Regions from separate parts of the Homo sapiens genome. Here region 2 is reported to be linked to region 1. Evidence: microRNA targets listed by miRTarBase, many of them from high-throughput screens and not tested one by one. Region 1 holds a microRNA gene; the other region holds the end of a gene's coding sequence.
What was found. Region 1 holds the annotated microRNA hsa-miR-4677-3p (UCUGUGAGACCAAAGAACUACU, at 1,635-1,656, opposite strand). A microRNA usually pairs through its seed, bases 2 to 8, with sites in the 3' UTR of a target mRNA and lowers its output. Matches are read on the target gene's strand: a 7mer-m8 pairs with bases 2 to 8, a 7mer-A1 pairs with bases 2 to 7 and ends in A, and an 8mer does both.

Region 1 (3,417 bases):
GCACTGGGCCCTAATCAAAGGTTAGCGGCTATAAAGAATCGTCTTCTCAGATTAATTTACCAAAAGGGAAGTTGACAAAAAAACTCTATTTCTGCATCACTCATTTCAGGTCAGCTCATCCTTGTCATGTTAGGGCCTCCTGCAACATGTCCAAATCTTAAATACAAGGCTGTGAAATTAATGCTGAATTTGGGGTTTCGGATGCGAGGAAGCTCCTTTTGGGATATGATTATCAGGAATGCTGCGTGGTAGCCATTTCCTTCACATACTTTGCTGTAGGATTAATTTATACCTCTTTAGAATGACAATGAGGCATTTTATAAAAATAAAGCATAATCAAAACATTATGTACAAAATTTAACAGACAACAACAAAGAAAGATGAAATTTTACTAAGAGTTCTGTTTATTTCCTATTAAAAAGGGTAACACCAGAAAATTGGACATACAAAAACATACTTGTTCTCCTAATTTGAATAAACCAACTGTAAAATCAACATTTTTGAGACAAAGAAATGTGAATATAGGCTGGGTGTTATTTGATATTAAAGAAGTATTGTTAACATTGTTAGGTATGATAATGACATAGTATGTAAAAATATCCTTCATAGATCCACATGGGTATTTATGAGTAAAATAACATAAGGTCTGAGATCCATTTAAAATACTTCTGCAAAAGAAGAAAAAGAGGTAGAGGAAGAAGACAGAAGAAGATGAAGATGAGAAGGTGGAGCAGAAAAAACATGACAAAGAAGATGAAGGTGACGATGAGGACAGAAGTAGAGAGAAAAAAGTGAGATAGATGGAATAGGATTGAGGAGGAGGACTGGCAAAATGATGAGTGATGGAATAGGATTGAGGAAGGGGACTGGCAAAATGATGAGTGATGGAATAGGACTGAGGAAGAGGACGGGCAAAATGATGAGTGTAGGTGATGGAAATGTGAGGACTCATTACAATATTCCCTATACCCTCATACATGTTTTTAAATTCCCCTGATCGAGTGTGTGTGTGTGTATAACCATTGCCTAAAAAAATTTCTCATAAAAATCAAAGAGCATATTTCACATTCTCCTCCATACCAAATGCCTCTTTTTCTGGTGCAAGAAGCATCCTCTGAGGCTGACAGGAATTCTCTAAGCTGAAGAGATACAAAGGAGTTGATGGGAAGGATAATCCGCCCATCGGTTCCTGACACAATATAAAGAAGAAAAGAAGAAAGTGGGTGGAAGCGACTGCCATTGTTACTCTCCTAACCTTTCCTTCTAATTATGCCAGAGCCAAGGCTCAGGTCACAAGGAAAATTATTTTGGTGGTTAACCATTTGCCCTATTTTGTATACATCAAAAAAGCTGTTGTTCTCACACATTCCAATCTCACAGTTTCCCACCCACTTTAAAAATGTATCAAGTGGTCAGATGAACTAAAATATGAATAAAATGACTATATTATGAAGAACACCTTGTTTGCAAACCTACAGATAGCCTGCTTGTGATGCTGAATTGTAAGATACACAACACTTAAACATTTAATCTACTTTATATTATTGTAGGTATTTCAGATAAATGCTCAACATGCCCCGCTTTTAAAAGTTAAATGTAAATTTCTCTCTTGAGTGCAGATGGTGGCCAAGCAAAGTAGTTCTTTGGTCTCACAGACAGAAGGTCAGGTCATGGCTGAAAGACCAAAGAACAATTGCTGCTTTGCTACTCCAAATCATCCATGGAATGAGACACCACGACTTCTTTTCTGAAACTGTCTGTTCAATACAAAACAGTTAAAAAGAGTACCTATAAGATTTCCTCACATTCCGTCTGGGAAAAAAAAATGGTAACAAGCACATCACTTCACAACACATCACAAACATCTTGTAACTGTTCAGAGGTTTTATTCCTAAAGCTGTGACCTCCTAAAAAGGCACATCTCTATCTAAAAACATACCACTAAACGTCATTATGAAAACTACTATTGTTTCACTATTATCAGAAAACGTTTACAAATGAAAACTGCTCCTTGTAAATCCTGCAACTTTAGCCTCCATACCATCACGGATTAATTAAAATGAGATTTAATACTGCAAATACTTCTAATATTGCAAATGCTTCTAAACAAGTTATTCCTTTACAAGTGATATTATACTCCTATTGTCCCTGATCTTTTTTCCTCTAGAAAATTATAATGGAATTTTAAATAACTGAGACTCTTTCCTGATGTATTTTTGCAGTTAGTCCAAAATATTATGCTGTCAGAATGCTGTAGAATAATACGAAAGGCCAAAAGTATGCCAATATATTGATTCCTTTTTAAAAAATTACAATATATCAGGAAAGAAAAGTTATCTGTGATAAACTTAGTAGACCTAGGCCTTCAGTCCCTGACAGAAAGCATTTTCCATTCCACTATCAGGCACGCCCCCAACTGGATGCAATAAAATGTTTCATTATTTGTACATGTTAATAATTAAAAGTCTTCTGAAAATGTAAAACCCATTACAACACCAAATATAGTGGTACAAAAGCAGAATTTTACTTTGGTTGCCAGGATTTTAATTTAGTACTAAGGATTTCAGTTATGACTTGAAAAGCTTTTTGTTCTAGTCTTCATTATCACTTTCATTTTCAATACTTTTCCCAATTGTCTTTGCATCATTTGTTGTAAAGACTTCATTGGCTCAAAAGAGAAAATATGTTGGAAAATATGATGAAAAACCTCGAACTAGAAACATATTTGAAAAAAAACTTATTTGGAGCGACCTACTTCTAAATTCTAAAACAATTATTTTAAAATATTGACACTAAGAACCCAGTCTTACTATTTTAATTGAATAAACAACCTGCTTTCATTGAATACAAAGAATGAAAACCTTCAAGGTCCTGTACTGTAACATAAAAATAGAAAATCAAAAGTCAGCCTATTAGAACTGCCTCTCTAAAAACTTTATCCATGTTGTCAACTAAAATTGGAGTTATCTACTTCATCTCAATAAAGATATAACATAAAACATCTGTTCAAACTGAAATTAAAGTACGCAGCTTTTATCCACTAACATTTCTAATGTCACTGTATTTAGGCTTCATGAACAAACGTATTCATGGTTATCTTAGTTAAAACTGGTTTCACTCTGCCAACAATCAATTTGATTGACATATTTACATATCAACTCATCTCATCTTACGAATTTTAAACTTTTTCATTTAAAATTGGATTCAAGTTGGCATCTTTCAAGAACTTTATGTATGTATATTTTAGGTTCAAACTGTGCATTAGAACATTTCTTTTTACTTTTGTAAGTAATAGATACACATATCCAAATGTATATTTATGACCTGTCAGATTGGAATTTTATATGCATGCTGTTGTATTCTCACCATTCATGTGAAAGGTGATAATTTTAGGCAACTATAAAAGAAATTTTCCTA
Region 2 (3,417 bases), not on the chromosome of region 1:
TAAACTGCAAATCTGTAAGGGTGAGATCATGTTTTTATGATGGCTCCTTTAATCTCCCATAGCTCCCATTCCTCTACATAACACCATAGATGTTCAGCCAGTACTTGTAGAACGGTGAATGAATCGATCAAATGAATGAATAGCAACTCTATCTACAAGGCATGCCAAACAAGCTACCACGAGATTCTGATTTACTCCTTGGCTCTTTGTGCTCTCTGTGGAGCACCATTCACATAGTTACCCTGCAGTCCTGCAACCTCACCCATTCTGTAGCACTTTGAAAGGAGAGAGTTGTAACCTTCATAGTCATTGACCTTTCAGTACCCACTTTTATTACATTTTAAATACACCCTTGAAGCCCTCCCATCTTCAAGGAAAGATCCAGCCTGTTAGCTCTGGGTGTGTAACGTAAGACCTTAGCTGATGTCTTCCTTGCAGGCATACCAAGAATGCCAGTCACCTCTCCAAACCCTCCCCCAAACTAACATGGTCTCCTGAGCCTCGGGTCACGCCTGGGATAGAGCAGAGTTAGCAGCCATATGTTTTCACTTCAACAGTAAATCTAACTTGGAATTTTAAGAACCTATTTTTCCCCTCTAGGAAAAAATACTTGGGATATCACATGAAGAAGTAGACTGAAATATCAGATTTGTCATCAGGAATACTCTTTGTCTACTGTGGTCCTGTGCACGTTGGCCTCAGATGGACTACAGGAGATTACAACGTACAAGGCAGATGGAGCATTGACGTTTTCAAAACCATTATTCCTGTGACTGGAGAGGCATCAGGAGAGGTCTCGTTCGTCTCCAGCTCATAAAATGTAGCAGCATCATCCTTGACAGTGATGTTTTTCAGGCCCTCCATTGAGAACCTGAGGAAATCTGTAAAGATAAGTGGTGATGTTGTTTCAAACGTTCAGAACAGATACCATCATCCTGCCTTTGTTAGCTGCTGTAGGGAAAGTGCGTTACAGATGTCTGCTGACCTCACAAGAGTGAAAAGATAAACTGTGCATGTGTTTCCACTTCCGTTTCTAGTACTATTTATTTTTAAACTACACTTGGGGTGGCCTAATACCTAGGAAGATGTTGCTATTCACGTTAGTAAACAGCCTAAAGAAACTCTTAGGTTTACTGCTACATCCATTTGTTTGGAGAGGTAACTGTTGTCTGTGCCTTTTTGAAAAACTTCCATTTGGTACAAAATTTTTACTCCAACACCCCCTCAACCCTTTTCTCAGGGACCACACCTCTTCTTCCCAAGGTCCCTGGGACTTCCTCATTCTTTGTGGTAGTACAATGATTGGTAGCAGGTAAAATAAATACATAGAAAGACTACTGTCAAAAGAGTGTCTTCTGATTAGTAAGTAATAAGTCTTCTGATTATCAAATGAGTTAATTTACATAAAATGCTCAGAACACTTCTTGGTACTTAATGTTAAGTCTTCACTTATGGTCCCTAATGTGTGCTGCCCTCAGCTAAGCTGCCAATTTCCTCTCCTGTCAACGCAGTCACTGATTGCTTTCCTGAGATTGCGGCTGTTCGGTATAAGGTTTTTTAGAAACATGCTCAATAGTAAGTGTTTAAGACACAAAACAATTTAAAAAATACTATCAAATTATAAGGTCTTACAAATTTCTGGATATGTAGTACCCAGCATATGGCCTGATGTAAAACTGGTGCTTAATAAAACTTTGAAGAACAAACAAGTCAGTAAGTCAGACATACTCTCAGGTTCAAGGGAAAACTGGATCTATCTATTATCAAATGCTTCACTAGCCTACCCATCTCAATAAAATGAGTTATTCTCTTTTGTTTTCTTCTCCCACATGAAAGTCATCACTGTTAGGGATAGAGGAGTCTCCATTTTTTGTTTGTTTGTTTGTTTTGTTTTGTTTTGAGACAGACTCTCGCTCTGTCACCCAGGCTGCAGTGCAGTGGCGTGATCTCGGCTCACTGCAACCTCCGCCTCCTGGGTTCAAGCAATTCTCCTGTCTCAGCCTCCCAGGTAGCTGAGATTACAGGCACCCGCCACCATGCCCGGCTAATTTTTTTTTTTGTATTTTTAGTAGAGACGGGGTTTCACCATGTTAGCCAGGATGGTCTAGATCTCCTGACCTCGTGATCTGCCCGCCTTGGCCTCCCAAAGTGCTGGGATTACAGGCGTGAGCCACCACACCCAGCCAGGAGTCTCCTTTTAGACATGGAGACACTGAAGACCACCTCTTCCTCCATCCACTCTGATCTCGCCATTCCAAACTTTTTGCAGTTCCCCAAAGGTATTATGCAACCTGGCACCTCTGAGCCTTCATAACAGTATCCTCTCTACTTGGAGTGTTCTTGCATGATGGCTTCCTTTCCCCCTGTTTCCACTAAAACAACTAACTCTAGCTCATCTTTCCAAATTTCCTCAGTTTCCTCCAGGACTCATTTGCTAACCCTCCCTTGGCCATCATGTGGCTATATTTGGATGCCTTTTCTCATAAGATGCTCCAAATCACCCTGCATGTAGACATTATGCTTAATATATTGCACCGTAAGATTTGGTTTACCCAGTCTTTCTCAGTGGATTGTAAAGTCGTTTGCAAACAGGTACTATGCCTAATTTAACTTTATATATCTAGTGCCTGGCATAGTTTTGGCACACAGTTGCAGAACCATACCCTCGTCTGACTGATACAGCTTGTAAATCAGTATGACTGGAATATGCCCTAAGATATGTGTACTTACAACAAGCTCTCCATGTGTTTCCAATATCATCTATGGCTTGTGGTCAAGATGAAGTAACTAACGAGATTTAATCTCCTGCTTGAAACAACTAAAAAAAAAAAAAGACACTATAGATGAGAATGATTTTCAAGGCATTGGACATTAGGTAATTTTTTTTTTTTTTTGTATTTTTAGTAGAGACGGGGTTTCACTGTGTTAGCCAGGATGGTCTCGATCTCCTGACCTCGTGATCTGCCTGCCTCAGCCTCCCAAAGTGCTGGGATTACAGGCGTGAGCCACCGCGTCTGGCTAGGAGTCTCCTTTTAGAGAACTGGTCCCTGAGAGATGAGACTCTAAGTGAGCCCTATGTTTGCCCTAGAGTACTGCATGCAAAGAGTTTCTAGGTCATGCTGGAGAGAGGGGAACCCACGCAGAGTTCACCAGCTCCCTGAGTAGAGAGGATAGAGCTAGGAGTCCAGAAAGATCAGAGCAGCTGAAGTTTGCAAGTCTGATAAAGGATGAAAGAGAGAGGCACACAAAGCTCCAGAGACCTGCAGATATTTCCCCTTAGGTATTCAGATGAATACTGATCAAAACATGTGCATGAAGAAATTACCCAAGGCATGGGGAAGAACCACCTGAAAATATTAAAGGGAACGCTCTCCAAAGCCTACACAAGGCCATGAATACTGCCTATTTTGGCAATAG

Region 2: the mRNA of BCL2L14 is a reported target of hsa-miR-4677-3p. The part of its 3' UTR that is shown has no 7-base or 8-base seed match.

What each region holds. Positions count from the first base shown.
Region 1 is chr1:243,344,464-243,347,880 of GRCh38, reverse strand. MIR4677 (microRNA 4677) reads right to left here and starts at 1,705; the gene lies at 1,626-1,705. All of the region lies in intron 12 of SDCCAG8 (SHH signaling and ciliogenesis regulator SDCCAG8), which reads right to left.
Region 2 is chr12:12,098,350-12,101,766 of GRCh38, forward strand. It overlaps BCL2L14 (BCL2 like 14), which reads left to right. Exons shown (of 6, transcript NM_138723.2): 6 at 601-1,346. The coding sequence ends at 639. Among named protein-coding and RNA genes, the nearest start is that of MIR1244-4, 12 kb to the right of the region's middle.